2 separate regions of the Homo sapiens genome follow, and region 1 is linked to region 2. Evidence: fine-mapped expression QTL. A gene starts in region 2. The other region holds a variant in brackets. All regions are shown on one strand. Distances are from middle to middle. Region 1 overlaps NAGLU (N-acetyl-alpha-glucosaminidase). Region 2 holds the start of PLEKHH3 (pleckstrin homology, MyTH4 and FERM domain containing H3).

Region 1 (15,414 bases), 130 kb after region 2:
TGGGACTGCAGAAGATTATATTAACAATGTGAATATTCACAAGCTTGAAAAAATGAATGTACGGAAGAGAGGGGGTCACACTTTACCTCTTATTATCCCACCCCCAGGGGTGACCTTGTGAGCCACACCACACAGGTACACACATGCACGCATATGTACACACACTGTCACAGAGGGGCAAAGGGGGTTGGCGAGAGCGGGACTGAGAGCAGATCCCAGGCCTCAGAAACCCATGCCACCTGGGCCCCCTCCCTGTGGCCTTCCTGGATGCTGTAGGGATAGCAGATCTGTCTGGGTCAGCAGGTCAGGGCGACTGGCAGGAGGGGGTGGCTGGGAGGCCTCTTCCTCCAAGAGCAGGGGCAGCACATCATCCAACAGGCAGAGAAGACCCTCATCCGAGGTAGGGGCAGGTCAGGGTGGAGTGCCTGCCTCCTTCCCCCAGTGCCCCACACAAAGCTCCAAGAGCTCCAACAGGCTCCTGTCTGTTTCCACTTCCCAGGCTTTCTGTGGTCATGTCCCTGCCCACTCCAAAGGGCCATCCCCCTCAGCCTTGCCTCCCTCTCAGACCCAGCTGAATCCCTGCCTCGGTACCGCCCCCTCCTGGGGCACTCCTGCCCCCTTCCTCTGCTGCATCCTCACCTAGCCTCCTATCTGTTCACACCTCCCCTGCACCAGACCTCCACAGAAGTTCAGACAGTGGCTCTACAACCCTACTGGCCCCTATCAATGACTCCTGCCCCCCTGGGACCCTCCACTGGGCTCAGGAAAGACGGGCCATTGTAGCAAAGTAGCCAGTCCTGTAGCCCCAGCTGGACCTCCTGGTGAGGCAGCTTGCCAGATGGTGGGGATCGCTCAGTCCTCTGGGGCAGAACAGGGTGAGTGGGGCTGTCTCCCTTTGATTCACTTAGCCCTCTTTCTTCTTTACACATTTGCAAAATGTGACAGTAGTCATATTACTATTCATTCTAATAACAGTCCTTGCTGGCTATTAAACCTCTATACTAGCACTTTCAGGCATTATCTCCACCATTACTAAAACCGATTAGATAGGTATTATTATACCCATTTTACAGATAAGAAAGACTCAGAGGGCCGGTCGCGGTGGCTCATGCCTGTATGCCCAGCAATCTGAGAGGCCGAGGCGGGCGGATCACCTAAGGTCGAGAGTTTGAGACCAGCCTGACCAACATGGAGAAACCCCGTCTCTACCGAACATACAAAATTAGCCGGTATCCCAGCTACTTGGGAGGCTGAGGCAGGAGAATCACTTGAATCTGGGAAGCGGAGATTGTGGTGAGCCGAGATTGCCCCATTGCACTCCAGCCTAGGCAACAAGAGCGAAACTCTGTCTCAGAAAATAAAAAAAAAAGAAAGAAAGAAAGAAAAGAAAGACTGAGAGAAAGCAAGGAACTTGCCTGAGGTCTCATGGCTAATGGGGTCCAAGTCACAACCTGACTCTACCCCAAGCCAATTCCCACCTAACTCCTCCTGCAGATGCCCCTTGGTTATCCAGAGACTGTGTCTGGCCTTTAATATGGACTTGAGGTGTGATCCTGGGCTGGCTTCTTTCTGGACCTTGGTTTCTGAGTTTTTCGGTTGGTTGGTTCATTTGATTAATTGACAGGGTCTCACTCTGTCACCCAGGCTGGAGTGCAGTGGCCCCATCATGCTCACTGCACCCTCCAACTCCTGGGCTCAAGGAATGGTGCCACTGTGCTGATTTTTAAATTTTCTTTATTTTTGTAGAGATGGGGGTCTCACTGTGTTGCTCTGGCTGGTCTCCAACTCCGGGGCTTGAGCGATCCTCCTGCCTCCGCCTCCCAAAGCGCTGGCATTACAGGCGACAGCCATCGCGCCTAGCTGCGCTGGTAAAACTGGCTAACGCGATCTATCTTAATTAGCCACCCACAGCTGCTACCGCCGCCCCATCCCCAGGGACCACACAGACCCAGGGGACAAAGAAGGGCGCGGGAGACAGCGGCTGAGGAAGCCTTTACTGCGGGGCGGCCGGAGGATCGCCGAGCTCAGGGTCCCCCACCGCACCGCGCCCGGCCTCGTCCTCTGCCCCAGGCCCGGCCCCGCCCCCAGCCTCGGCCCCAGCCTCGGCCTTTGCCGGAACGTCGCCGAACACTTCCCGGTGCATGGCGGTGACGTAGTTGGAGCCGCTGGGGTCGTCCAGGCGCATCCGCAGCAGGGGCAGGAAGCGCTCGGTGGTGAAGTAGCGCAGGGTCGGCTTCGGGGCGCGCAAAGCGGTGAGGAAGACCTGCGGCGGCGGGAGGAGAGCTGTGGCCACCGCTGCGCGCCGGAGGACGCACCGCCCCCACTCCTGGAGTCCAGCCCGGCGCTCACCTCCGCCACCTCCTCAGGGTTCTGCGCCGCCTCGCGAAAGACTTGCTTGCTGTGGGCGAGGTATTGGTAGAAGCGGTGGAAGGTGTGGATGTCCGTGCGGTCCAGCACCTCCTCTGGGCTGCCCAACACCTTCTCCATGAAGGCGGTGTGCACTGGGCCGCACTCGATCAGGCTCAAGCTGCTGGCCGGAGAGCAACGAGTGGGAGGGGGCGGACGCCAGCCAGGCCCCAGTCCCAGCCCCAACCCCAGTCCCAGCCCCAACCACGTCCCGGCCCCCGACCGCGAGCAGCACCGCTGCGCTGGGAAGTGAGGCGGAAAGGGCGCTGGGGATAACCAGAACATTTGAAACGCGGGTTCCTGCCGGAGCAGCCCTCCCAAATCCATCTGAGGCTACAAGGGAGCCCTGGTGTCAGGATTCGAATCTAGCGGGGTCCCTGGCCGCTGTGTGACCTTGGGCCAGTCACCTAACCTCTCTGGGCTGGAGCTTCCCCATAACAATACCAACACTTCAGCAGCTAGGTCAGCAGGTGGCACAATGCGTGCCATGCGCCCAGCCCAAGTGCCTGGCACACAGCTAATGTGAGCCGGGCAGAGAGGGCCAGGGAGATCGCCCCAGAGCGGCTCCCGCAGGACAGGGTGCTCGGCGTCTCTAGGTCAGAGTTAAGAGGGTTCGGGGAACGGGGGTGTTGACTCACTGGACCCCAAAGGGCAGCAGCAGAACCGCCAGACTCTCGCATAAGCCTTCGAGCGCGAACTTGCTGGCGCAATAAACGTCATTGAAAGGCAGCCCTTAGGTGGGGAGACGAGGTTCCTGAGGCGCAGCGGCCAGGGGGTCATCCCCGGGCAGACGGTGCCCCTCCAAGCTGACGGCACCCCACTCCACCCCCCCCGCGGAACCTGCCTTCAAGGCTCAGCTCCGCACACAAAGAATCTGGAGCTGCCGAGGCCACTCCCTACCACTCACCCATCAATCCTCCCACGCTCCCGGTCACCAACACGCGTCCCGAACCGCGCCTCTTCATGTCTGGCAGGAAGGCCTGCAGCATCCGCACAGTCCCTACTACATTCACGTCCAGCACAGAGGCCACGGCGTCCTCCCCCAGCGCCTCCAGCGGCCCCAGCAGGCCCAGGCCTGCGTTACACACTGCGGAGACAAGAGGCCCGACCAGCCCGCCTCAGCATCACCCTCAGCACGGCCTGTCCCCTCGTGCTCCCTGGGCCTGGGAACATGTTGGTTTCAACGCAGGGCGGAGAAGGCTCCTAGGAGCCCATATGCTTCCAGGAGGCTCACCCAGCACGTCCACGCGGCCCTCAGTCACGCGTTCCCGGGCAGCGGCCACGGATTTTGAGTCCCTTACGTCCAGCTGCAACGTCTCCAGGGATCCCGGAGGGCATGCCAGGGCCCGGGCCGCCTCCCACAGCCGGCCCTGTGTTTTCAGGTCCCTCAACGTGGCATACACTGGAGGTTTTGGGAGAGGAGGAAGATCTGACTTCCCTTCTGGCCTCCAAGGGCTCCTCCCTTCTCTCCCTCCCTGTCCCTGCCTATCTATACCTTTGAAGCTCTGGGATGGATCTGAAGCCAGACGTACGGCCAAGTGCAGGCCGATGCCCGAGGAACAGCCGGTGATGAGCACCACGGTGCGGGCCATGGTGAGACTGTGGGGAGAGGCTGGGGCTCTGGGCTTGATATCACCTGCTTCGCCCCGCCCCGCCTGCGGGCCCCCACCCCTTGTTGTGTCTCCCACGCAATCTCAAGGATAAGCCTTCCTGCGGGTCCCTGGCCCGCTCTCCCCACCCTGTTCTGAGCCAAAACAGACATGAGCCCACTGCTTGGAACAACAAACTGTCCTGGTTGCTGGTCAGAGGGAGGGGAGGCTTTACAAGCAGGTGTGGGTTCCCACGTGGGCACAGAGTGGCCCCCTGGGCAGATTCCCCTGGGTATGCCTCTGTGCCACAGGAGCGATTATAGTGACCGCAGTTTGCTGCAGAGGCTGTGAAAGTAAAGGCGTTGGGAGGTGGGAGATGATTGTATATGTGCTGGTTTCGTCCAGGGTTCCTAGCTCATAACTCACATGACCATGGTTACAGTCTTACGTTGTCATGTTGGGGTGCCTCAGGCCTCAAAAAACAGCCTTTCGTCTCTCTGACCTTCTCCTGTCCTCTTTTCAGCTGCCCAAGGCAGGACTCTAATCTGATTGTGGGTTGTAGGATCCTCATTCCAGAGTGGGTCCTTGCCCCATACCCTGGAGAAAGGAATGCTGCACAAAGGCCCAAAGAATCTGGACTGGCCTTGCTGGGCTTAGATCAGACCCTTTTTGCCCAATCACATTATCACAGTTGTCCATGCTTCAGTCATGGACAGCCAATGGAGTTCTCCATAAAAGGCCCAAAGGACAGGGTTCGGGAGCTTCTGAGGGCTGAACGTGTGGAGGCTGACAGAATGTGCCCAGAGGGTGACGTAACCCCAACTCTATGGAGATAGAAGCTCCTGCTCTGGACCCTTCCAGACCGCCCTGTCTGTATCTCTTCATATGGCTGTTTATTTCTATCCTTTAAAATATGCTTTGAGGCTGGGCACGGTGGCTCATGCCTGTAATCCCAGCACTTTGGGAGGCCCAGGAAAGGGGATTGTTGGAGCCCAGGAGTTCAAGACCAGGCCAGGTAACAGAGTGAGACCCGGTCTCTGCAAAAAATATTAAAAAGCTTCCCAAGTAGCCGGGACTACAGGTGTGTGCCATCACTGCCACCATACCCAGCTAATTTTTTGACTTTTTTGTAGAGACGGGGTCTCACTTTGTTTCCCAGGCTTTTTTTTATTTTTGAGACAAAGTATTGCTTAGGTTGGAGTGCAGTGTCTTAATCTTGGCTCACTGCATCCTGCATCTGCCTGGTTCAGGCGATTCTCCTGCATCAGCCTCCCGAGTAGCTGGGATTACAGGCACCCGCCACCACGCCCAGCTAATTTTTAGTATTTTTAGTAGAGACGGAGTTTCACCATGTTGGCCAGGCTGGTCTCAAACCCCTGATGTCAAGCGATCTGCCCACCTCAGCCTCCCAAAGTGCTCGGATTATAAAAAAGTGCCACCCCACCTGGCCCTGTCATTTTTAGAAGATTATTTTATTTTGAGACGGAGTTTCGCGCTTCTTGCCCAGGCTGGAGTGCTGTGGCACGATTCTGGCTCACTGCAACCTCCACCTCCCGGGTTCAAGCAGTTCTCCTGTCTCAGCCTCCCAAGTAGTTGGGATTACAGACACGTCCCACCACATCCGGCTAATTTTTGTATTTTTAGTAGAGATGGGGTTTCTCCCTGTTGGTGAGGATGGTCTTGAACTCCCAACCTAAGGGGATCAGCCAGCCTCCACCTCCCAAAGTGCTGGTATTACAGGCGTGAGCCACTGTGCCCATCCTAAAAGATCATTTTAACTGCTCTGGGGTAATTTCACTGCTGATGGGCAGGAGTGGAATCAAGAAAACTAGTTAGGAGGCTACTGCTGTAATTGAAGGGAGAGATGACAGTGTGCAGTCTGGAATAGGGTGATTTGGGGATATGCTTTGATGAGCAAAGGTAGAGCTGTCAGTATTTGCTGCTGAATTGGTTGAAAGGTGAGAGAGACTGGAGTCAAGGACTACTCCAGGGTTTTTAAAACCAGTATTGGGAAAAATGGAGTTGTCATATAGTAAAGTAGAGAAGACTGGGGGAGGAGCCGGTAGGAGGACTGGAAATGTGGAATTGGGGTTTAGACACATTAAGTTCATTGTATCAGGTGGACGTGTTGTATTGAGTAGGCAGTTGGAGATACAGACCTGGAGTCTGTGGGAGACAGTGGGGTTTCTTTGGTGGGGGGGTCATCGGCATCTAAGTGCTATTCGAAGTCATGGGACTGCAGAAGATTATATTAACAATGTGAATATTCACAAGCTTGAAAAAATGAATGTACGGAAGAGAGGGGGTCACACTTTACCTCTTATTATCCCACCCCCAGGGGTGACCTTGTGAGCCACACCACACAGGTACACACATGCACGCATATGTACACACACTGTCACAGAGGGGCAAAGGGGGTTGGCGAGAGCGGGACTGAGAGCAGATCCCAGGCCTCAGAAACCCATGCCACCTGGGCCCCCTCCCTGTGGCCTTCCTGGATGCTGTAGGGATAGCAGATCTGTCTGGGTCAGCAGGGCAAGGCGACTGGCAGGAGGGGGTGGCTGGGAGGCCTCTTCCTCCAAGAGCAGGGGCAGCACATCATCCAACAGGCAGAGAAGACCCTCATCCAGAGGTAGGGGCAGGTCAGGGTGGAGTGCCTGCCTCCTTCCCCTAGTGCCCCACACAAAGCTCCAAGAGCTCCAGCAGGCTCCTGTCTGTTTCCACTTCCCAGGCTTTCTGTGGTCATGTCCCTGCCCACTCCAAAGGGCCATCCCCCTCAGCCTTCCCTCCCTCTCAGACCCAGCTGAATCCCTGCCTCGGTACCGCCCCCTCCTGGGGCACTCCTGCCCCCTTCCTCTGCTGCATCCTCACCTAGCCTCCTATCTGTTCACACCTCCCCTGCACCAGACCTCCACAGAAGTTCAGACAGTGGCTCTACAACCCTACTGGCCCCTATCAATGACTTCTGCCCCCCTGGGACCCTCCACTGGGCTCAGGAAAGATGGGCCATTGTAGCAAAGTAGCCAGTCCTGTAGCCCCAGCTGGACCTCCTGGTGAGGCAGCTTCCCAGATGGTGGGGATCGCTCAGTCCTCTGGGGCAGAACAGGGTGAGTGGGGCTGTCTCCCTTTGATTCACTTAGCCCTCTTTCTTCTTTACACATTTGCAAAATGTGACAGTAGTCATATTACTATTCATTCTAATAACAGTCCTTGCTGGGTATTAAACCTCTATACTAGCACTTTCAGGCATTATCTCCACCATTACTAAAACCGATTAGATAGGTATTATTATACCCATTTTACAGATAAGAAAGACTCAGAGGGCCGGATGGGGTGGGTCATGCCTGTAATCCCAGCACTCTGAGAGGCCAGGGCGGGCGGATCACCTGAGGTCGGGAGTCCAAGACCAGTCTGACCAACATGGAGAAACCTCGTCTCTACTAAAAATACAAAATTAGCTGGGCGTGGTGGCACATGCCTGCAATCCTAGCTACACTTGAACCCGGGAGGCAGAGGTTGTGGTGAACTGAGACCGCGCTATTGCACTCCAGGCTGGGCAACAAGAGTGAAACTCCGTCTCAAAACAAAAGAAAAACAAAAAAGAAAAGAAAAGGGAAAGGAAAGGAAAGCACTCAGAGAAAGCAAGGAACTTGCCTGAGGTCTCATGGCTAATGGAGTGCAGGTCACAACCTGACTCTACCCCAACCCAAGTCCCACCTAACTCGTCCTGCAGATGCCCCTTGGGTATCCAGTGACTGTGTCTGGGCTTTACTGTGGACTTGAGGCATGATCCTGGGCTGGCTTCTTTCTGGACCTTGGTTTCTGGGTTGTTGGGTTGGTTGGTTGATTAGATTAATTAATTGACAGTGTCTCACTCTATCGCCCAAGCTGGAGAGCAGTAGCTCGATCATGCCCACTGCAGCCTCCAACTCCTGAGCTCAAGGAATGGTGCCACTGTGCTAATTTTTTTATTTTAGAGATGGGGTGTCTCACTATGTTGCTCAGGCTGGTCTGGAACTCCTGGCCTGGAGCGATCCTCCTGCCTCGGCCTTCCAAAGCTCTGGGATTATAGGCGACAGCCATCGCGCCTAGCCGCGCAGATATAACGGGCTAACGTGATCTGTCTTAATTAGCCATCCACAGCCGTCACCGCCGTCCCATCCCCAGGGACCGCACAGGCCCAGGAGACAAAGGAGGGCGCGGGAGACAGTGGCTGACGGAGCCTTTCTTGCGGGGCGGCCAGAGGATCGCTGAGCTCAGGGTCTCCCATCCCACCGGCCCCGCCCCCGGCCTCGGCCCCAGCCCCGGCCCCAGCCTCGGCCTCTGCGGGATCGTCGGCGAACACGTCCCGGTGCATGGCGGCGGCGTAGTCGAAGCCAAAGGGGTCGTCCAGGCGCATCAGCAGCTGGTGCAGGAAGCGCCTGGTTGTGAAGTAGCGCAGGGTCGGCTTCGGGGCGCGCATAGCGGTGAGGAAGACCTGCGGCGGCGGGAGAGGAGCTCTGGCCCGGGCTGCGCGCAGGACGACGCACCGCCCCCGCTCCCGGAGTCCCGCCCCCCGCTCACCTTCACCACCTCCTCAGGGTGCTGCGCCTCCTCGCGGTAGATCTCCTTGCTGTGGTGGAGGTATTAGTGCAAGAGGCGGAAGGTCCGGGTGTTCGTGCGGTCCATCACCTGGTCGGGACCGCCCAACACCTTCTGCATGAAGGCGGTGTCCACAGGGCCGCACTCGATCAGGCTCACGCTGCTGGCCCGAGAGCCGCAAGTGGGCAGGGACGGAGGCGACCCAGGCGCCAAGTCCCATCTCCTGCCCCAGCACCGGCCCCGACCCCGGCCCTGGCCACGACCCAGAACAGCACCGCTGCGTCCCGAAGGTGGAAAGAGCGCTGGGGATAACCAGAACATTTGAATAGCGGGTTATTGCTCGACAGCCCTCCCAAACCCATCTGAGGCTGCCAGGTAGCCCTGGTGTCAGAATTCGAACCTGGCGGGATCCCCGGCCGCTGCATGACCTTGGGCCAGTCACCTAACCTCTCTTGGCTGGAGCTTCCCCATAACAATACCAACACTTCAGCAGCCAGGTCAGCAAGTGGCACAATGCGTGCCAATGCTCCAGCCTAAGTGCCTGGCACGCAGCAAATGTAAGCCGGGCAGAGACCAGAGCGGCTTCCGCAGGACAGGGTGCTCGGCATCTCTAGGTCAGAGTTAAGAGGGTTGAGGAGACGGGGGTGTTGACTCACTGGACCCCAAAGGGCAGCAGCAGAACCGCCAGACTCTCGCATAAGCCTTCGAGCGCGAACTTGCTGGCGCAATAAACGTCATTGAAAGGCAGCCCTTGGGTGGGAAGATGAGGTTCCTGAGGCGCAGCGGCCAGGGGGTCATCCCCCGGCAGGCAGTGCCCCTCCAAGCTGATTGCACCCCACCCCCTAAGGAGCCTGCCTTCAAGGCTCAGCTCTGCACACAAAGAATCTGGAGCTCCGGGCCCGGTCCCTGCCACTCACCCATCAATCCTCCCATGCTCCCAGTCACCAACACGCGTCCCGAACCCGGCCGCTTCATGTCTGGCAGGAAGTCCTGCAGCACCCGCACAGTACCTACTACATTCACATCCAGTACAGAGGCCACAGCGTCCTCCCCCAGCGGCCCCAGCAGGCCCAGGCCTGTGTCACACACTGCGGGGACAGAGGCCCAACCAGCCCGCCTCAGCATCACCCTCAGCACGGCCTGTCCCCTCATGCTCCAGGGGCCTGGGGACATGTTGGTTTCAACGCAGGGCGGAGAAGGCTCCTAGGAGCCCATATGCTTCCAGGAGGCTCACCCAGCACATCCACACGGCCCTCGGTCACGCGTTCCCGGGCAGCGGCCAGGGAGCTTGAGTTCCTTACATCCAGCTGCAACCTCTCCAGGGATCCCTGAGGGCATGCCAGGGCCCGGGCCGCCTCCCACAGCCGGCCCTGTGTTTTCAGGTCCCTCAACGTGGCATACACTGGAGGTTTTGGGAGAGGAGGAAGATCTGACTTCTCTTCTGGCCTCCAAGGGCTTTTCCCTTCTCTCCCTCCCTGTCCCTACCTATCTATACCTTTGAAGCTCTGGGATGGGTCCAAAGCCAGATGTATTGCCAAGTGCAGGCCAATACCTGAGGAACAGCCGGTGATGAGCACCACGGTGCAGGCCATGGTGAGACTGTGGGGAGAGGCTGGGGCTCTGGGCTGGATATCACCTGCTTCGCCCCGCCCCGCCTGCGGGCCCCCACCCCTTGTTGTGTCTCCCACGCAATCTCAAGGATAAGCCCTCCTGCGGGTCCCTGGCCCGCTCTCCCCACCCTGTTCTGAGCCAAAACAGACATGAGCCCACTGCTTGGAACAACAAACTGTCCTCGTTTCTGGTCAGAGGGAGGGGAGGCTTTACAAGCAGATGTGGGTTCCCACGTGGGCACAGAGTGGCCCCCTGGGCAGATTCCCCTGGGTATGCCTCTGTGCCACAGGAGCGATTATAGTGACCGCAGTTTGCTGCAGAGGCTGTGAAAGTAAAGGTGTTGGGAGGTGGGAGATGATTGTATATGTGTTGGTTTCGTCCAGGGTTCCTAGCTCATAACTCACATGACCATGGTTACAGTCTTTCGTTGTCATGTTGGGGCGCCTCAGGCCTCAAAAAACAGCCTTTCCTCTCTTTGACCTTCTCCTGTCCTCTTTTCAGCTGCCCAAGGCAGGATTCTAATCTGATTGTGGGTTGTAGGATCCTCATTCCAGAGTGGGTCCTTGCCCCATACCCTGGAGAAAGGAATGCTGCACAAAGGCCC[A/G]AAGAATCTGGACTGGCCTTGCTGGGCTTAGATCAGACCCTTTTTGCCCAATCACATTATCACAGTTGTCCATGCTTCAGTCATGGACAGCCAATGGAGTTCTCCATAAAAGGCCCAAAGGACAGGGTTCGGGAAGCTTCTGAGAGCTGAACGTGTGGAGGCTGACAGAAGGTGAAGAACTCATCCATGTGCCTGGAGGGTGATGTAACCCCAACTCTATGGAGATAGAAGCTCCTGCTCTGGGCCCTTCCAGACCGCCCTGTCTGTATCTCTTCATATGGCTGTTTATTTCTATCCTTTAAAATATCCTTTGAGGTTGGGCACGGTGGCTGATGCCTGTAATCCCAGCACTTTGGGAGGCCAAGGCAAGGGGATTGCTGGAGCTCAGGAGTTCAAGACCAGCCAGGGCAACAGAATGAGACCCCGTCTTTGCAAAAACTACAAAAAAATTAGCTGGGTGTGGTGGTGTATGCTTAGAGTCCCAGCCACTTGCGGGGTGGGGCGCTGAGGCGTGGGGTTTGGGGGGATGGAGGCTGTAGTGAGCCGAGATCATGCCACTGCACTCCAGCCTGGGTGACGGAGCCAGATCCTGCCACTGCAGTCATTCTGGATGACAGAGTGAGACCCTGTCTCAAAAAAGAAAGAAAAAAATTTTTTTCCTCTGTAATAAAGCAATAAACATAATAAGGGTTTCCCTGTGTTTCGTGGGTCACTGTCGCAAATGAGTTGACTCCAAAGAGGGGAAGGGGGTCATGGGAACTCCAACTTGAAGCCAGTTAGTCAGAAGTTCCAGGGATCAGGACTTGTAACCGTTGGGAAGGAGGGGGTGGTCTCATGGATCTGCACCCTAACCCTGTGGGATCTGATGCTGTCTCTGGTTGATTACATTGGAACTGAATTGGAGGACACCCAGCTGATGTCTGCTGCTTGGTGTGTGTGGGGAAAATCCTCCAAATATTTGGTCACAGAAGTCTTCTGTGTTGGTGACTGTTGCTGTGGCATGCCAGCAAAGGACAAACATGGTTTGAAAAGAGGTTTTCCTGCAACAGAAGGGCATTCTACGTTCAAAGGTCAGGGTAACATTAGTGTTAAAAAGAGAGACGTGGCCGGGCACGGTGGCTCACTCCTGTAATCCCAGCACTTTGGAAGGCCGAGGCAGGTGGATCACTTGAGTTCAGGAGTTAAAGACCAGCCTGGCCAACATGGTGAAACCTTATCTCTATGAAAAATACAAAAATTAGCCGGGCGTGATGGCACAGGCCCGTAGTCCTAACTCCCTGGTAGACTGAGGCAGGAGAATTGCTTGAACCCGGGAGGCAGAGGTTGCAGTAAACCAATATGGTGCCACTAAACTCCAACCTGGGCGACAGAGCAAGACTCCATCTTGGAAAAAAAAAAATTAGCCTGGCGTGGTGGTGCATGCCTATAGTCCCAGCTACCGGGGAGGCTGAGGCACAAGAATTGCTTGAACCCAGGAGGCGGAGGTTGCAGTGAGCCGAGACTGTGCCATTGTACTCAAGCCTGGGCAACAGACCAAGGCTCCGTCACAAACAAACAAACAAACAAAAACAGGGACGTGAGGCAAGGGATGGGAGAACAGGTCCCACCCCAGGGCCATGCTATAGCCCTGAGTCCTCCCAAGCGTGGCAGCAGTGACCTTCTCATTTTGACAGACCCAGGGGACTCATCAGTTTAAGTGGAAAGAAAACAGTACTTTAATCCCACACTTTGGGTGGTGGTGGAGGGCAGGTCATTTCCCTCCAATCCCCCCAGGTCAGACCCCACCAGCAGGCCGTGGGGCCTCCTCCCAGGCCTGGGTTATCCTGTGATGTCTGTCCAGCTCTGGGCCCTGGAATCTGCCCTGGAATTAGCGGAAAACAAGGCCCAGTGGTGGCGAATCTATCACCAAGAGCCGGCCACCCAGCGGGGGTAATATTTGAGGAAGATCTTCTTGGCCAGGTCCACAGTGTCTCCTCGCGGCTGGCTGGGGTACCTCTGCTTGCTGAGAACGAAGGCCTGCTCCAGTTGGAAGACATTTTTGTCAAACTGGTGCTGTTGGAAAGGGATGCCCTGGGCCACACTGTCAACCAGCGCCTCCAGGAAAAGCCGCCAGCGAGGGGTGTAGTAGTTGGCCACCAACCCCGCCAGCTGCTTGTTGGCATAGTCCAGGATGTTGCCTTCTGGCCCCCACAAGGTCAGCTGGTAGCGGCTGTTCTGCTCGTAGAAATCGGCCTCGGCCTCACTGACTGCCGCTGCTCGGGCCTGCTCTAGCCAGCTGCCCAGCAAGAAGCGGCTGTCACTAGCCAGCACCTCGTCCAGTGCCGGCAGCAGCTCATAGGCCAGGACGCCTCCAGCCCTCAACAGGGAGGCCAGCTCCTTGCTCAGGTAGGCGCTTCTTGCCTCCTCATAGTACAAGCTGACCAGCTCCTGCACTGCCTGCCGAGTGAGGTCCAGCAGGTCGTAGCGGAAGGCGGGGCTGGTGGCCAGGGAGGGAGCAGATGTGAGCAGCAGCCGCCAGGCCTCAAACACATCAGATCGGTTGTACCAGATGCTGGTATTCATCTGTAGGGACGGCCGCCTGACCAGCGGGCTACGATTGTGGCCCCTGCAGGCCTCCCCGGAGCAGTTGTACACACTCCGGAGCAGTAGCCTCCACGCTGCCCCTGCGTCCGGGTGGGAGACCCCATACCGCCGGGCGGCAAAGCTGGTCACCCAGGCTGCCAAATCTGGCACTGGGTCCTTTCGCCAGCCCAGCTCAGCCATGAGGGAATAGACCACTTCGTTCTGGCTGATGCCCTCGGGGGCCATGCCCGTGCCTACCATGGTGGAGTTGGGGAAGAGGCGGGCAGCTTCTGGGCCTCCGTTCACAGCCTCTAGGGCTCCAAAAAGACCATGGTTTCCCCCAAAGTTGTGCAGCATGCACCAGATGAAGGGCTGGCCCTGGAAGGAGGCAGTGCGGGTATACACAGGCTGGCTCTCAGCAAACAGGTCCAGAACCAGGAGGCGGCCACGGGGCACAGCTCCCAGCACAGCCCTGATCTGGGCGGGCCCCCAGAACTGCGGCTGGTGCTGGAAGAGCCAGCCTTGGAGCAGCCACACAGCCTCAGTATCCACTGTGGACAGGAGGTAGGGGGAACAGAGAAGAGGAGTGATGAAACAGAGGGCCCAGGGAATGTTCACCCCACTCTACAGACGACTGTCTATCCCAGGTCATGGCTTCCCATGACCCCCACCAGCGGGACGCTCTGTGGCACATACGCGTCCCTCTGAAAACTCCAGGACAGGGTTCAGCAGCTTGGGTGAACATGAGAGTTACCCAGAGGGCTCCTTAAAACATGGAGGTTTCTGAATGGGCGTGGTGGCCCACACCTATAATCCCAGTACTCTGAGGGGCTGAAGCAGGTGGATCACTTGAGCCCAGGAGTTCCAGACCAGCCTGGCCAATGTGGGGAAACCCTGTCTATACTAAAAATACAAAAATTAGCCTAGCGTAATGGCAGGTGCCTGTAATCCCGGCTACTCGGGAGGTAGAGGCACAAGAATCACTTGAACCCATGAGGCAGAAGTTGCAGTGAGCTGAGATTGTGCCACTGCACTCCAGTCTGGGCGACAGAGTAAGATTCTGTCTCAAAAACAAAATCAAGGCCAGTCGCAGTGGATCACGCCTGTAATACCAGTACTTTGGGAGGCTGAGGTGGGCAGTTCACCTGAGGTCAGGAGTTTGAGACCAGTCTGGCCACCATGGTGAAACCTGTTTCTACTAAAAATACAAAAATTGGCCAGGCAAGGTGGCTCACACCTGTAATCCCAGCACTTTGGGAGGCTGAAGTGGGCGAATCATTTGAGGTCAGGAGTTTGAAACCAGCTTGACCTACATAGCGAAACCCCGTCTCTACTAAAAATACAAAAATTAGCCGAGTGTGGTTGGGGGGCGCCTGTAATCCCAGCTACTCAGGAGGCTGAGGCAGGAGAATCGCTTGAACTCAGGAAGCAGAGGTTGCAGTGAACTGAGATCGTGCCACTGCACTCCAGCCTGGGTGACAGAGCGAGACTCTATCTCAAAACAAACAAAAATTGCCGGGCGTGGTGGCGGGTGCCTATAGTCCCAGCTACTCGGGAGGCTGAGGCAGGAGAATCGCTTGAACCTAGGAGACGAAGGTTGCAGTGAGATGAGATTGTGCCACTGTGCTCCAGCCTCAGCAACAGAGTGAAATCTGTCTCAAAAAAAAAAAAAATGTAGCTTCTCCTTCAGGTCTTGGGTAGGGCCTGAGAATTTGCCATCTCACAGCTCGGGCTGCTGCTGCTGCTGCTGCTGGTTTTGGGTCACACTTGGAGCAGTACTGCTCAAGAAAGGCTGAGCTGATCTGTTCCCTTCCTGGCCAACACAGACGCCTCTCCACTAAGTCATTCCTGACTTGGGCGCCCTCTGCTCCACTCCTCCTTTAAGTGGCAGGAAGGAGCCCTGGCTTCACAGTTTTGTAGCAGGATGCGCACTTAGTGCCTTTAGGCACATCCACTCACCTCCTGCCTGCAGTGCCTACTTCAGCAACCACGCAGAGATGAAACAAAATCCTTGTTCATAGCTAGCTCTTAGTGGCCTTTGCTCTGGGCCAGGCGTTATTC
Region 2 (15,414 bases):
CCTATAGAAAGGACAGGAGCTTTAACCGGCTATCCCTCTCCCCGAAGTCCTCCGGAGGCCCCCACCCTTCCGCGGTGCGCTGCCAGTTGGCAGCTGATGTTCCGCGGAGCTCACCGTGCAGCCTGGCGAATCTCGGCGCAGTAAGGAGACTGTAGTAGGAGGAGGCGCCCAGGGAGCGTGCATACAGGGGACCCACCAGCTCCTCGTCGCAGCCGTCTAGGGTAGGGAAACCGACTGTTAGTCAGCGCTGGCCCCTCCCAGACCCTTCCAAAGGCCGGCCCACTTAGCGACCGAAGCTTCCCCTTCCGTGCCCCCAACCCCCGCCCCCAGAGGCACACCCAGCCCTACCTTAAAGCCATCTATTCAATCCTGGCTGCAGCAACAGCTGCATGCTCAGAGGAGGCTACCTTCTCCTTCTAGGCAAACCCCTAGGCTACACCTATAGGCCCAAGGCCAGACCCTCCCTAGCTAGCCCAATACCTGCCCTGGTTTAGTACTTTCCCAAACTCAATCCTAAACCTCAGCATCTTCCACAACCTAAGTCAACCCAAGACACCAATCCAGCTCCAACCCTAGCCTCAATCCAACTCGGCCCCCAAAACCTGCACCATCCCCAAATACAGGCCTTGCACCCAACCTCAGCCAGTGCTAGCACCATCACCAGCTCCATGTCCAGCCTTAGCATCAGTCAGGGGCACCAGCTCCTGCTTGGATCCCTGCCACAAAACCCAGCCCCAGCCACAAACCCCAGCCCTAGCCACAAACCCCACCCCTTGGCCAGCTCCAAAGTCCAGCCTTAAGCCCTGGCAAAACCTTAATCCTAGTATCGGTCACCAGTATACACTTATCCCCCAGCCCTAGCCTCAAACCCAGGCACCAGCTCCTGCTTGGATCCCAACCCCAAATCCCTGCCCGCTGACTTCATCCTCTTCCCAGAGCCCAGCCCCAGCCCCGGGCGCGCGCGGCAGCCTCAGAGCTGCAATGCGGAGCGCGGGGGAGAGGCAGGAAAAGATGAGAGCCAGCGGGCGCGCGCCGGCCGGGAAGGACCCGCGACCACCCAGCCGCAATGCGGTTCGGGGCCGCCCTGCAGGCTCTGGACTCCTGGGCCCAACCCCACCTGCCTCCAAGCCCAACACTCACAGTAGCCCCAGCCCTCGGCTCCTGAGACCGCGGCGAGCAGGATGCAGAAGAGCCGGAGATGCATCATGCAGGGCTGACGGTCCCGGCAGCCGCCTCCCTGTGAACGGCTCCGGCTAGGGCTCGAGTTCTGGCTTGGGCTCCAAGCTCTCCTCCTGGGGTTTGCAGCAGACCGCTCTCTCCTCCTTACCCACCCTTCCCTCCCTCTCTCCTTTCGCCCCCAAGCGCTCTGTCTCTCCTCTCTCTTTTCTCTCTCTCTCTCTCTGGTTCCTGGTCCTCCGCTCTTCTCTCTCTATCCTCTCCTTTCCACCCTCTTTCCTCTCACCTCCCCCCTTCCCCAGCCTCTGTCTCCTGGCACGCGCCGGTTTCCCGGACCCCGCGCAAGCGCGTGCCTCAGCCCTGCTGCGAAAGGGCGGGGGTAGAGAGCCTCTCGCCACCGGGAAAACCCCAAGTAACCCGAGGCTGCCCGGGACTAGGGCCACAGGAGTGAGGACAGGGAACCTAGGGCCAGAAGCATCCTGAAAATTTCAAGAAAAGGGAGGTGGTTTGGGGGAGGGGTGCCTGGAAATGGAATGAAGGGTAAGTAAAAGAATCTTAACATTTTCGGAAGGCAAATTATGCTCTAGGAGTGGTGCTGGGCACTGTGAATTTAGCATTTTTGCCCTACTCCACTTTGCAGATGAAAAACCTCAGGCTCAGAGAGGTCAAGAAACTTAGTCAATATCACACAGCAAATGATTATATTCCGAAGCCCGTTCTTTCTTCACTGACAAAGACAGTAAATTATTTTTTCTTTCTTTCGTTCATTCTTTTTTCTTTCTTTCCTTCCTTTTTTTCTTTCTTTCTTTCTTTCTTTCCTCTTTCCTTCCTTTCTTCTTCTTTTTTTTTTTTTCGTAAAATCCAGATCCTGCACAAGAGAGTGAAGTCTTTTGGAGGAGGTGGAATGGGAAAGTGACCCCGTAGACCCTAATCCCCACCTCCCTCTCGGCCCCTCTCCCCGCCTCTTCCTTCCTGTCCCGCTAGTAGTTTAACTTCTACCCCCTGTGGCTATACCTCAGAAACCTGTGTAGCCAGAGATGGGGACGGAGGCCACAGAGCAGGTGGGAGTGGGGGCAGGGAGGGGGAGAAGGGTTACAGAGAGGGAGGAGACAGGGAAGGAATGGGATTCCCCACCTGGCAATGGGCCTCTGCCATCCTATGGCTTATTCAGGATTCTTGGCGCTGTCTCAGACTAGGGGTCCTCCAGATAAATGGGCTGGTGGTGTGAGGCTGGGGTTGTGGGACAGGGACTAGGGCTGAGGGGAAAGGCGGGTTGAACCTAGAGGTCCAGGGTCCCACCTGGGCCCTGAAAACCTGAGTCCCAACCCTGGAGACCCCCTTGGCATGAGTGGTTCAGTGTGCTGGTATTGGAGGTACAGGGAAGGTGGGTATGGAAGGGAAAGAAGAGAAACAGAAACCCACTCCAGACGGAGGTTGGAGTCCAGGGCTCAGGTCTGAGGCAAAGCCTGCATATGGGCATCCTTCCAGGAGAGGGCGCTGCAAAGGGAACTGAAGCTGTAGGATTTATTAATAATACAAACTTTGGGCTGGGCGTGGTAGCTCAGGCCTGTAATCCCAGTACTTTGGGAGGCCAAGGTGGGCGGATCACCTGAGGTCAGGAGTTCGAGACCATCCTGGCCAACATGGTGAAACCCCATCTCTACTAAAAATACAAAAATTAGCTGGGCGTGGTGGTGGGCGCCTGTAGTCCCAGCTACTTGGGAGGCTGAGGCAGGAGAATCTCTTGAACCCGGAGGCGGAGGTTGCAGTGAGCCGAGATCGTGCCACTGCACTCCAGCCTGGGCGACAGAGCAAGACTCTGTCTCCAATAATAATAATAATAAATAATAATAATAATACAAACTTTGTATTATGGCCTTTGGAGAACACAGGTTCTCCCCATCCATTATTTTCCATATTGCCATCTTCACAGCAAACCTTGAGAGGTGGGCTGGTCAGGATTTATAATCTCAACATTACAGGTTAGGTAACTGAGGTCTAGAAAGAGCAAGTGGCTTGCTCAAGGTCACCCAGGAAGCTGGAAGCAGAGGTAGGAGGGGTGCAAGGGAAGCCAAGGCCTGCTGAAGGTGTGCTAGGAAGAGTCTGGAGAAGAGCTTATGTCTCCCCGTGTACTGTTACATCTGGCCACACAGGAGCTCTCAGCTTGGAAGGCAAGTGTGGGCGGGGGAGTTGTGTGGTCAGATGTGTCTCATAAGATCCCGCCTCTCATTTGACCCTCCCAGGTTTCCTGGGGCCATTACTCTGGGGATGAAGAGGACGCATACTCGGCTGAGCCACTGCCGGAGCTTTGCTACAAGGCCGATGTCCAGGCCTTCAGCCGGGCCTTCCAACCCAGTGTCTCCCTGACCGTGGCTGCGCTGGGTCTGGCCGGCAATGGCCTGGTCCTGGCCACCCACCTGGCAGCCCGACGCGCAGCGCGCTCGCCCACCTCTGCCCACCTGCTCCAGCTGGCCCTGGCCGACCTCTTGCTGGCCCTGACTCTGCCCTTCGCGGCAGCAGGGGCTCTTCAGGGCTGGAGTCTGGGAAGTGCCACCTGCCGCACCATCTCTGGCCTCTACTCGGCCTCCTTCCACGCCGGCTTCCTCTTCCTGGCCTGTATCAGCGCCGACCGCTACGTGGCCATCGCGCGAGCGCTCCCAGCCGGGCCGCGGCCCTCCACTCCCGGCCGCGCACACTTGGTCTCCGTCATCGTGTGGCTGCTGTCACTGCTCCTGGCGCTGCCTGCGCTGCTCTTCAGCCAGGATGGGCAGCGGGAAGGCCAACGACGCTGTCGCCTCATCTTCCCCGAGGGCCTCACGCAGACGGTGAAGGGGGCGAGCGCCGTGGCGCAGGTGGCCCTGGGCTTCGCGCTGCCGCTGGGCGTCATGGTAGCCTGCTACGCGCTTCTGGGCCGCACGCTGCTGGCCGCCAGGGGGCCCGAGCGCCGGCGTGCGCTGCGCGTCGTGGTGGCTCTGGTGGCGGCCTTCGTGGTGCTGCAGCTGCCCTACAGCCTCGCCCTGCTGCTGGATACTGCCGATCTACTGGCTGCGCGCGAGCGGAGCTGCCCTGCCAGCAAACGCAAGGATGTCGCACTGCTGGTGACCAGCGGCTTGGCCCTCGCCCGCTGTGGCCTCAATCCCGTTCTCTACGCCTTCCTGGGCCTGCGCTTCCGCCAGGACCTGCGGAGGCTGCTACGGGGTGGGAGCTGCCCCTCAGGGCCTCAACCCCGCCGCGGCTGCCCCCGCCGGCCCCGCCTTTCTTCCTGCTCAGCTCCCACGGAGACCCACAGTCTCTCCTGGGACAACTAGGGCTGCGAATCTAGAGGAGGGGGCAGGCTGAGGGTCGTGGGAAAGGGGAGTAGGTGGGGGAACACTGAGAAAGAGGCAGGGACCTAAAGGGACTACCTCTGTGCCTTGCCACATTAAATTGATAACATGGAAATGAGATGCAACCCAACAACTGTTACTATTTTTGAGTCACCGACTTGGAAGTGATTTGTGGCGGGGCAGAACCGGTGGGTTAACACCCCGCCCCCGCCCCACCCCCCGCCCTGCCCCGCGCTTGGCTCTCTGAGTGGAAGACGCTGAGGGCCTGGGTGGGGGTGGGGGGCTGCTGAGTCTGCTAAAGCTCTAGCCACTGACACCCCCTCCACCGTCACCTGGCCTCAGCCAACAGAGGTGAGGTGGGAAAGCTGCCAGGCAAGGAGGGGCGGTGGTTCCTCTTGCAATACTGTAAGGAAGAGCTTTCTAACAACCAGAGCGCTCTCCAGTAATGGCTGCCTTAGCAAATACTGAGTTCCCGCTATTGGAATGTTCAGACTGTCGGGGACGCTGTGGGCCTTTGCGTGGTGTGGGGGGAGGGGGAGGGGCAGGGGATTCCCGTTTTTGGTGGGCGTTTGGATTTCATAACCACTTTACAATCCCTTCCTAGTGTCTGTGATGGAAAGAAAAAATGAAAAAATGAATTGTAAAATTTGAGTTGAAGTTTTTCCACCTTGAAGAAAAACCTAGGAGGGATTGCAATCTGCAAATTTCCAGAGTAGTTATCACGGGTGTGGTGGGGGTGAGGGATATTTGCTGTTCTCCATCTTCTCTGGGGACTGGGTCAGAGGAAATGCACTGAGCTGGCCGGAAAGAGAGAGGTTGGATATGGGAAAAAACTTCTCTGCAGGCAAGGGCCTGGGATCCAGACCTGGAAGATGGTTGTGGTATCTCCATTCCTAGGTAATCTCTCAGTACAGGCCACTCTCATGTGGAGAGAGGCCACGGCCGAGATGGCCTCCTAGACACGCTCGCATTGATTCCTGGTCTTTGTTTTACACAATCACAACGGGCAGGATGGTGTTCACGTGCGACAGTTCTCGCGGTTTAATATCGGTCAGCAAAGCTGTCCCCACCGCTCCAGCCTGGAGTCTAGGGTCGAGAAGGGCGGGGCGTGGCGAGGAGGTCTCAAGGGAGGTGCTGGCCTGACGGCCCCGCCCGTCCCGCCCTTCCCCGCCCCTCCCCGCCCAGCCCAGCCCTGCCCAGGCTAGCAGTCCTCAGAGCCTCCCGCAGCAGCGGCGAAAAGGGGTCCCCCACGGCCTCTAGGGGCCAGGATCCAGGGAAGGCCCGGAGACGGCGCCGATCCTCAAAGGGTCCCACACGCCAGCCACTGGGGACCGACCTGGAACCCTCCATCCAAGATCTCTGGAATCGCCGCTGAGTCAGCAACGCGCGCGCGCGCCCGCGGAGGCCGCGGCCCCGCCCCGGCCGCCTAGCGCCTGAGTTAACCCCTTCCTATACAGAGCCGCAGGATATTAGCCCTAAGAGGCCTCCACTGTATTCGGAGACCACAGAATTCCTTAGAATCCAAGTCAGTCTCCCCAGCTGAGTTCGGTGAGCTGTGAGCTCTATATTCGATTTTATTTCCGGCCTAGGTCTGCACCTTCCCAGAGTGCCTGCCTCAACTCCTTCACCTCGAAAAGGAGGTGAGGCCGAGTGCAGTGGCTCATACCTGTAATCCCAGCACTTTGGGAAGCCAAGCTGGGAGGATCGCTTGAGCCCAGGAGTTAAAGACCAGCCTGGGCAACATAGTGAGACTCCATTTCTACAAAAAATAAATTTAAAAAATTAGCCAGGCATGGTGGTGTACGCCTGTAGTCCCAGCTCCTGGAGAGGCTGAGGTGGGAGGATCCCTTGAGCCGAGGAGTTCGAGGCTGTAGTAAGCTATAATGGCTCCACCGCACCCCAGCCTGGGCAAGACAGCGAGACCCTGTCTGGAAGAAAAAAAAAAAAGGGTGGGGGAGAGCTGAATCAGACCGAGAAACTGGAGAAACTGGACTCCTTCTCCCCAGACGTGGAGGGCCACCTCCAGAGCTGTGTCCTCGCAGGTCTGGACATCCTCTTAGTAGCCAAGGCGTTTCCCTTTCTCAGGGACCCTGAGACGAGACAGGGGTTCAGAGAGCGGCAGTTGGGTTTTCCTCTGTCCTGTGCCAAAACTCCTCAACAGGGTTTTTAATTGGTTGGTGAGCCAAGAGTTAAAACAAGAGCCTGAAGGCGGGCTTCCGTGACGTCACTAGCACCCCGCGTCCGACCTCAGAGACTGGGGCGTGGCTAACATAGCCTCGTCCCCTCCCTCCCTGTTTCCCCGCCCCTCCCCGCTGTCACCAAGCCAGGGGCACATGATGCAACCCAACGCGGTTTCAGCCGTCTGATTGGTAGCCGCGCCCGGCGCCAGGCACAGGGATTGGACAGAGGAGACTGTGACGAAACCTGGACCCTGCCTAGTAAAGAAGGGAGGAGAGAAAGAAGAGAGAGGGGGGGCCCCCCGGGAGGGAGGGGGCCGGGGGGGCGGGGTCCCAGCTCTGTGCTCGCGCCCCCAGCGCGCCAGTCCCGGGGCTGCAGGGAGCGCAGCGCGCGCGGCCCGGGCCCCGGCCACCGGACGCCCTACCGGACACGACCCTCCCTGGAGCTTGGACAACTGCCCACCTCGGACGCTGCACCGGACACTGCCCCCCACAGGGCTGGACACTCCAACGGACACTACTTCCCAGCTCCGGACATTGCTCCCTCCTCTCCCGGGGCCCTGGACGCTTTTCCCCCTCCCCCCTCCGGGGGCCCAGACACTGAGCCCCCCTCAGCGTCTGGCTAGCGTCCCCTTGCACCCCAGCCCAGGACACTGCCTCCTCCCTGTCCTCTTCTCCCTTCTGCTCCTCCCACCTCATCTTTCCCCTGCTCGGGTCGGAGCCCCGCCAGTTCCTCCGACCCCCTACTGCTCGGCCGCGGCTGCCCGCGCCCCCATCCGCAGCTCCTCGCCCGGATGCCTCTCCCCGGGGGACTATGGTGGCTTCTCTGCTGCCGTCGAGGCTTCACTCTTCTGCACCGGGACTACGGGGACGGCGAGCTTAGCGGGGACGGGGACGAGGACGAGGACGAGGAAACCTTTGAGCTGCGGACCCCGAGTCCAGCGGGCGGCGGGAGGGTAAGTCCCGGGGGTTCGGAGCCTCGTCTCAATCACTCTCGCTGTAACCGGCCGTCACGCTGATCCGCTCCAGCCTCCAGCCACACGCTGCGCGCTTGGCGAACTAGGGATGAGGGAGAGTTTTTTGCCTGGGGGCCAAAGCCCCCGGGAGCTCTCGGAGCAGCAGCCCTACTCGGGATGTGCCTGTGGGCCTCCCGCTGCAGGCTGGGCGCTATCCACCTGCTGGGGGCCCTGAGGCAGGGGAGGCGTCACGCGTGGCCCGACCTGGCCCTGCCTCTCCCTTCCCCGCTGGGCCCGCGTCCCATCCCGTCTCCTTCCGCCTCCGCCAGCGCCGAGGAATGTGGCGAGGCCGGCTGGGCGGCTCGAACGCCTGGGTCCCCCTCCGCTCCCAGTTCGCAAGTGCGGAGGCCAGATGCGAGAGCTCCCGCTGCGGAGACCTGGACGAGGGGGAGAAGTCATCCCAGGATTGGGGTCTGTGGCGGGGACCCCAAGGAGAGGGAGGTGGGAGCTCTTTGAGGACCCCTCCTCATTACCCTGCCACTCAGGACAGAACTCTCGGCTTTCCCGGGTGAGGCTCCTGGGAAACCCCTGAGGGGATGGATGGTGAGGGACACTGGGCTGCTGCCTGGTTTTGTCGAATCTCCCCGTGGGGAAACGGAGGCACGATTGGTGTGGGAGACCTCCATCCCTTGACGTCTCCTCCCCCATCCCTCCTGCACACTGGCGGCCAGACTCCCGTGTGCTGTGGCCCGGGTCAGGCTCCCATCCCCCGCGCAGGGGTCCCCAGCAGGCCCAGTGGCTCGGTGCCCGGGTGGGGCGGGCTGCGCCGCCGGGGCCGGCGCCAGCACCTGGCGGAGGCGGAGGGTGGATAAATATAGAGGAGGGGGGAGGGAGGGAAGCAGGGCACTGCGATTAGGGGAGTTAGCCTAAGAGGGTGGTCAGTACCTGCCACATGTGGTGTGGCTGACAGCCCCACTCAGACCTTCCAGAAAATAGGTGGAGGTTCACGTAGGAAGGGTGCAGGACCCAGGCGTCCCCAAGCTTCCAGCTTGGGCAGGGTCGGCTTTACCAGGCCATTGCCTCCCTCATGCTCCACCTCAACTCCCCCCTTCCCTGAGCCTGGGGACAGGTGTCCCTGGCCCCCTCCCCCACCTCCCCCTCTTGGCTCTAGCAGTCTGGGAGCAATATGAGGATGGCACGGTTCCCGCCTGACTGGCCTCCGGGTTGGGTTTGTGGCCTCTCTCAGACCCCAGTCTACAGTTGAAGTTCCAGGACAGGGGGAAGGGAGGAGGAGGGGGAGGGGGAGGGCAAAACCCTGAACTACACCTGCCTCCAGAGGGTGTGCCATTCCTCAGTCTGGCCCGCCCTTCCTAAGCCCCAGCAAAGGGGCAGGGTCTCTGCTCACCATTGAGTCTCAGGAGTGTCTATGGGAGAATGTAAGACGCTTTTGGAGAAAGCCCTATACTGAAAGGGTCCCTCTGCCCTTCATTCACCTCTGTGCCTACCACCTGTCCTGCCTTGGCCAGGGAGGCAGTGTGGAAGAAGGGAAAATGAGGAGGAGAGGGTGCCTTGGAGCCTGGCAGAACGAGCTCACCTCTCCTGTTTCAAAGATGGGGAAACTAAGGCCCGGAGACGGGAAGAGACTTGCCCAAGGTTCCACAGTGAGTTAGTGGTGGGGCGGGAATTGGAACCCAGGTCTCCTGACTCTCTGCCCAGTGCTCTTTCCACCCTACCCTACCCCTGATTGTATTTTCAAAGGGTAACTGAGAGGAGCCTTGGCTCCTTAGCTCCTGCTGTTCTGAAGAGCTTGTCCTGTTAAGACTGGCGGGAGGGGCGAGCCCAGGGGCTCCAGCGTGCTCCACCCTAGTCACGACCCCACTCTGTGACTCCTCCTTCCTCAATCCCCTGAGCAGCCCTGTCCTGAGGGCAGAAGGCACGAACCTTGCGCAGGAAGGGCTCTGACCCTGAGGGCTTCCCCGCCTGTCTCCCCAGGGTCCCCTGGAAGTGACGCTGACTCAGCCAGTGAGGAGCGGGCCTGTCTCCAACAGGTGAGCTACGCCCCTACGTCCCATAGTCTGGCGACCCCAGCATGTTCCCGGGACCCCCATCCTCTCTGTCTCCCCTAGCGGTTGTGCAATAAGGGAGAGGCCCTATGCCGGACGCTGTGGTTTGGCTGGGGTCCCGGGGGGCGGTCCGGCTGGGGGCGCGGGGAGAAAGAGGGGGGTCGGGGCTATTTCTGGTTCGAGGTCAGAATGGCCCAGCGGTTCCCACAGCCTGGGGGAGGGGTGCCCAGCTTGGGAGCAGACACCCGTGCGGTCTGGGGAGCCCCTACAGAGGAGCCCCCTAGAGGCAGAGTGGAGACCCAACCTTCCCTCCCCTCTGGCCCAGGCTGCAGAGCTGGGAGGAGACTTGGAGCCTCATCCCGGAGAAAGGGCTGCCGGAGGACGACCCGGACATCGTTGTGAAAGGTAGAGACCCCCCTCAGTGCACTCTGGAGGCCCCCAATCCCAACCCCCTAGGGATTAATGTCTCTACTGATGTCCCTTCCCTCCCTCTCCGGCCCCCAGGTTGGCTGTACCGGGAGCCCCGCGGAGGAGGGGCGCGGCCCTGGCTGCCCCCGCGCCGAGCCTGGTTTGTGCTCACGCGGGACTCCCTGGATCAGTTCAGCAGCAGCGGGAAAGGGGCGCGGCGTCTCGGGAGCCTCGTGCTCACCAGCCTGTGCTCGGTGACCGGCCCAGAGCGCAGGCGTAAGGAGACAGGTGAGACCTCCTGGGGACTCTCCTACCTTCCTAGGCAGGGGCCCCGGCAGACCCTAATGGCCCTCCCTGGCCTCTCTTTTCCCCAGGTCTGTGGTCAGTGACTGTGTCTGGTCGGAAACACAGTGTCCGCCTCTGCTCCCCACGCCAGGCAGAGGCTGAGCGCTGGGGGGTGGCATTGCGGGAAGTGATCGCCTCCAAGGCACCCCTGGAGACCCCCACCCAGCTACTGCTCAGGGACATACAGGTACACACCAGGGAGAGCCAGGAGAGTGGTGGACCCCAAAGCTTTCTGGGGTTGTGAGGAACTCCCTTCCCCATCAAGGTGACCCTCTCCCTGGCCCCCTAGGAAAGTTGCGGGGACCCAGAGGCCGTTGCCCTCATTTACCTGAGGAACCCGATTCTGAGACACACTAGTGGAGCCTTGTATGCCCCACTCCTGCCCCTGCCCTATGGAGTCAGCGCCCCAGGTGAGTGGTCCCATGGCCCAAGTCCCCTGGATGGGATGGGGTGGTTCAGAGGTAAGAATCTGAATCCCTTAACTGGCAGGGATCTAAGCATCCTTCATGGACCTGCCAGCTCCTCACTTTTCGAAGGATGAAGGTGAAACTGGAAGCTGGCCAGGGTGGAGGAGAGGAAGCCAGCACACACAAAAGGGCCCCCTTTGGCCACCTTCTCTATGGGTCTCATTCTGACTACTGATGTTCCTTCAGGAGTTTGTACACTCCCCTATTTTTTCATTATCCTCTTGAGACTATGCCATATTACCTTTACAAGTGGTAGAAAAGCTACCACTTTTGTAGAATGTGCTGGCCTCATCCAACTGTACTTCTCCCTAAACGGTGTAGTGACTGGCCCAGGTCCTAAAGTTAGAGGATTAAAGGGTGCTGGGAGAGGAACCCCGGTTTTCTGACTCCTAGTCCAGCCTGTTTTCTGACCTATGGTGGTGAGCCTCAGTATGGAGTTACAGAATCTGGGGTGTGAATCTACAGCCCTTCCCGGCCGTCCGTCTCCCTAAGTCCAAATGCAGGCTTAGTGGGATTGGGAAGGGGATTCCTGGGAGGCAGAGGTTGAGAGTCTGGCTCCGTGGGACCACTGCTTTCCCTTCACTCTTCCTGTCGTTCGTACCCTCCCCTCCCTGCCACCCCATCCCCTTATATTCCCTCTGACCTTCCCCTGGTTCATGCCTTCCTCCCAGGGCGCAGCTCTGTGTCCCCTCTCCAAACCGTCCCTCCGCCCCCACCCTCCCACAGGTCCGGGCTATGCACCCCTGCGCGAGGAGGCGGTGCGGCTGTTCTTGGCGCTGCAGGCGCTGGAGGGGGCGCGGCGCCCCGGGCCCTTGATGCAGGGTGTGCTCCAAACCTGCCGGGACTTGCCCGCGCTCCGGGATGAACTCTTCCTGCAGCTGGCTAAGCAGACCTCGGGCCCTGCAGGTCCCCCCGGGCTCCCGGCTACCCAAGACCCTGCGGCCCTGCGGTACTGGCAACTCCTCACCTGCATGAGCTGCACCTTCCGACCTGGGGGAGCTGTGCGGGGGCACCTCCTGGGGCACTTGGAGAGGTGAGAGGGGCGAGGTGGGGGTTACGGCCTAGGCGAGGAGCTACCGGGCTGGGAGAGAATGAAAGGTCTTTTGCAAAAGACTTGGTAGGTAAAGAACCGAGTAATACATACAGTGCCTTTGTGGGAGATACAAGATCCTATCGCAGTTGTGAGCGGATGAATTACAATAAAACGCCCCCCTTGGGCTGAGGAGTTATGAAAAGGCTGCTTTTCCTCCAGCTGATGCAGGCCAGCGCCAGGGCTTAGGAAAATGTAGTAAAGTGGCTGGATTTCGATTTCAGGCCGAAGGAAGATCACGAAGACTTTTGGAAGTGGTGGAGGCAGTTGGGAGAAAGCTGCCAGGGGACTTGAAAAGTAATTCAGCTCTATGCAAAGCACTGGGGAGAGATTTAGAAGAGCCTTCAAAGAACTTGAGTTGGGGCGGGGAGGAAATCGGCTAGATAAAATAAACTATAAGAGAAGCAGGCAAGAGGGAGGGGGAGAAGAAAGCCCTTGGAGTATTGATCCCTGGGTTCCTCCTAACCCAGGACCGAGCAGGCACTCCCGGACTCGGAACTGGCGGAATATGCGCGCTTCATCCGGAAAGCGCTGGGCCGGACGCGCGGCAGAGAGCTGGTGCCCTCGCTGGCGGAGATTTCCGCGTTGAGCCAACGGCAGGAGCTGCTGTGTACCGTGCACTGTCCGGGGGCTGGTGCCTGTGCTGTGGCCATCGACTCCCACACCACGGCGGGGGAGGTGAGGCCAGAGAAAGGCCCCATGACCTCCAACCCACCCTGCCAGCTTCTCACGCCTGTCTCTCCCTCTTCCTGGACCCTAGGTTTGCCCCGAGTCTAGATTATTTTGGTAAGGGAGGGAGTGGTGGTGACAGGACTAAGAGACCCCTTCCAATTGAATCAACCCCTCCCAGAATCCTGGCAAGACCTCTGAGTGGTCTCCCCTCACCCTCCTCTTCTAGGTGGCTCGAGAGCTGGTGGGGCGGCTGGGCTTGGCCCGGAGCCGCAACGCATTCGCGCTGTACGAGCAGCGAGGGGCCCAGGAGCGAGCCCTGGCTGGGGGGACCCTCGTGGCCGACGTGCTCACCAGGTTTGAGAAGTAAATGTCCAGCCCCAGCCCTGCTCTCTATTAGCCCATCCACTTCTCAGCTGAGGTCAGTCTCTAAGCGGACATTATCCAGCGCTTGCCCCTGGCCCTGCGCTGTGGTGTTCGCTGGTTTACAGACGGACCTGCCCGCCGCAGGTTTGCAGTCCGACTGCAGCATCACCTCCGCTGTCGGCTCCGCCCAGGCCCCGCCCCAAACACATGGCCCCGCCCCCACCCCAAGCTGCCCTCGCCGTAGGGGTCCGGCTTCTCCCTAGCGCTTCGTCCGCTCCTCTTCTGCAGCTTGGCCGCGGAGGAAGCTGGGTTGGAGGACTCGCCCGACTCCGGGTGGAGACTATGTCTGCGTCTTCACGGACCTCTGCACCCTGAGGGGCTGTCCCCAGACGGTCACGAACTGCCTTTCCTCTTTGAGCAGGTGAGGCTCTCCGGCGTTCACGCCTCCAAACAGACCCCCAAGCCTGAACCCCTGGTTTTCTAGGCCGTCTCATTTCATCACTATGGCAGCCCCGCGGGAGGCTTGACTGGAACCTAGACCTGCTCAGATTCCGCGAGGCGTTTTCGCGACGGTTCCGCCGCCGCTCGTACACTGACGCCGGGTGCCTCCCCTGCAGGCTCACGCTCTGCTGCTGCGGGGCCGGCCGCCCCCACCCGACGACACGCTGCGCGCCCTGGCGGCGCTGCGCCTGCAGAGCCTGCAGCGGGACTTCTCTCCGCGGGTGCCCCTGCCCCGCCTGGACCGCCTGCTCCCGCCCCCGGCCCCGCCGCGCGAAGACCCGCCCCGCCCGACCCCCAGGCCGCCCCCTTCCGCTGCCCTGCTGGCCGGGGCGCTCTGGAGCCCGGGCCTGGCCAAGAGGCGGGCGGAGCGGGCCCGGCGCGGCGGGGCCGGCCGCACTGCGGGAAGCATTGCCCGCGAGGGAGGAGGCGGCGCCGGCACGGCAGCTGCCGTGCTGGGCGGCTGGAAGCGGCTACGGGGCATGGGCCGAGCTGAGGCCATGGCCGCCTACCTGGCCCTGGCGGCGCAGTGTCCGGGGTTCGGCGCTGCTCGGTATGACGTTCTGGAGCTGAGCACGGTGAGGGGGAGAAGGGAGAAGGGGACTCTGGCGGCCCAAGCCCCACACCTTTGCCCCAGAGCCACAGGTCCCACGGAGTGTCACGTAATTCCCCACATCCAGAACAGCTACCCATCTCAAACCCCAGGAGTCACCAGCCCTTGGGCCCTCACATCCCTGGAGCCTCAGCCCCCTCCACACACGTGCTGTGAATCATAGGGGGATCAGGATACTCCTGCTCACAGACACCCATCTCCCCCTACCAAAAATAACGCTGGGCTCCTCCTTCCACCCTGACTCTGCCTCTCTGTCTGCAGGAGCCTGGTCGGGGTGCTCCACAGAAGCTGTGCCTGGGCTTGGGAGCCAAGGCCATGTCCCTCTCCCGGCCAGGGGAGACGGAGCCCATCCACAGTGTCAGCTATGGCCATGTGGCCGCCTGCCAGCTAATGGGCCCCCACACCCTGGCCTTGAGGGTGGGAGAGAGCCAGCTCCTCCTGCAGAGCCCCCAGGTGAGTGAGAAGAGGAGTTGTGGGAGGAGGAGAGAAGGGAAGCGATGTCAGGAAGCATTTACAGAACACCAAACCTGGGCCAGGTAGAGCTCTAAGCACTGGGGATCCAGCAGTGATCACAGACAAGCTGAAGGAGCTTACACTAGAGTGGAGTCAGACAATAAACAAGGAATCCCAGGCTATGAAGACAGTGAGAAATGCTACAAAGGAAAGAGTGATGTGACAGGAAGCCAGGGAAGGGTTCTCAAAAAGGGTGCCATTTAAGCTAGCCAGGGAAGACCTGGGAGAACAGCATTCCAGGTAGAAAGAATTGCAAGGTGGCCGGGTGCAGTGGCTCATGCCTGTAATCCCAGCACTTTGGGAGGCCGAGGCGGGCAGATCACGAGGTCAGGAGATCGAGACCATCCTGACCAACATGGCGAAACCCCATCTCTACTAAAAATACAAATTAGCTGGGGCTGGTGGCGCACACCTATAGTCCCAGCTACTCGGGAAGCTGAGGTAGGAGAATTGCTTGAACCCGGCAGGCGGAGGTTGCAGTGAGCCGAGGCACTTCAGCCTGGCAACAGAGCAAGACTCCGTCTCAACAACAACAACAACAACAACAACAAAAAAAAATGTTAGAAGAGCAGAAAGAACCAAGTATAACTGGCACATAGAAATGAAGGAGAGAAGCCGGCCGCGGTGGCTCACGCCTGTAATCCCAGCACTTTGGGAGGCCGAGATGGGCGGATCATGAGGTCAGGAGATCGAGACCATCTTGGCTAACACGGTGAAACCCTGTTTCTACTAAAAATACAAAAAATT

What was found. PIP is the estimated chance that this variant, and not a neighbour inherited with it, causes the effect.
Region 1: its variant is fine-mapped to the expression of PLEKHH3 in thyroid (GTEx, PIP above 0.99).

The regions. Positions count from the first base shown.
Region 1 is chr17:42,541,518-42,556,931 of GRCh38, reverse strand. It overlaps NAGLU (N-acetyl-alpha-glucosaminidase), which reads right to left. Exons shown (of 6, transcript NM_000263.4): 6 at 12,483-13,904. The coding sequence ends at 12,694. It overlaps HSD17B1 (hydroxysteroid 17-beta dehydrogenase 1), which reads right to left and starts at 4,009. Exons shown (of 6, transcript NM_000413.4): 1 at 3,902-4,009; 2 at 3,641-3,808; 3 at 3,314-3,493; 4 at 3,045-3,138; 5 at 2,350-2,527; 6 at 1,718-2,263. The coding sequence starts at 3,998. The coding sequence ends at 1,994. HSD17B1-AS1 (HSD17B1 antisense RNA 1) reads left to right here and starts at 2,130. Exons shown (of 1, transcript NR_144402.1): 1 at 2,130-4,496. It also overlaps the pseudogene HSD17B1P1. RefSeq lists enhancers at 435-982, 1,798-2,365, 7,857-7,916, 7,947-8,026, silencers at 1,989-2,148, 8,417-8,666, a promoter at 4,009-4,085 and a cis regulatory region at 4,535-4,551. The variant A/G (reference allele first, on the strand shown) is at 10,792.
Region 2 is chr17:42,668,623-42,684,036 of GRCh38, reverse strand. It overlaps PLEKHH3 (pleckstrin homology, MyTH4 and FERM domain containing H3), which reads left to right and starts at 7,043. Exons shown (of 13, transcript NM_024927.5): 1 at 7,043-7,635; 2 at 9,628-9,683; 3 at 10,024-10,103; 4 at 10,203-10,394; 5 at 10,481-10,638; 6 at 10,741-10,861; 7 at 11,645-11,951; 8 at 12,479-12,686; 9 at 12,907-13,043; 10 at 13,332-13,464; 11 at 13,661-14,119; 12 at 14,416-14,607. The coding sequence starts at 7,474. CCR10 (C-C motif chemokine receptor 10) reads left to right here and starts at 2,194. Exons shown (of 2, transcript NM_016602.3): 1 at 2,194-2,237; 2 at 3,420-5,148. The coding sequence starts at 2,214. The coding sequence ends at 4,484. CNTNAP1 (contactin associated protein 1) reads right to left here and starts at 1,506. Exons shown (of 24, transcript NM_003632.3): 1 at 1,141-1,506; 2 at 115-216; 3 at 1. The coding sequence starts at 1,207. RefSeq lists silencers at 5,483-5,572, 5,923-6,002, 6,863-7,112, 7,203-7,262, 8,383-8,542 and 4 more and enhancers at 3,192-4,040, 4,041-4,889, 5,391-5,890, 5,891-6,392, 6,373-6,452 and 8 more.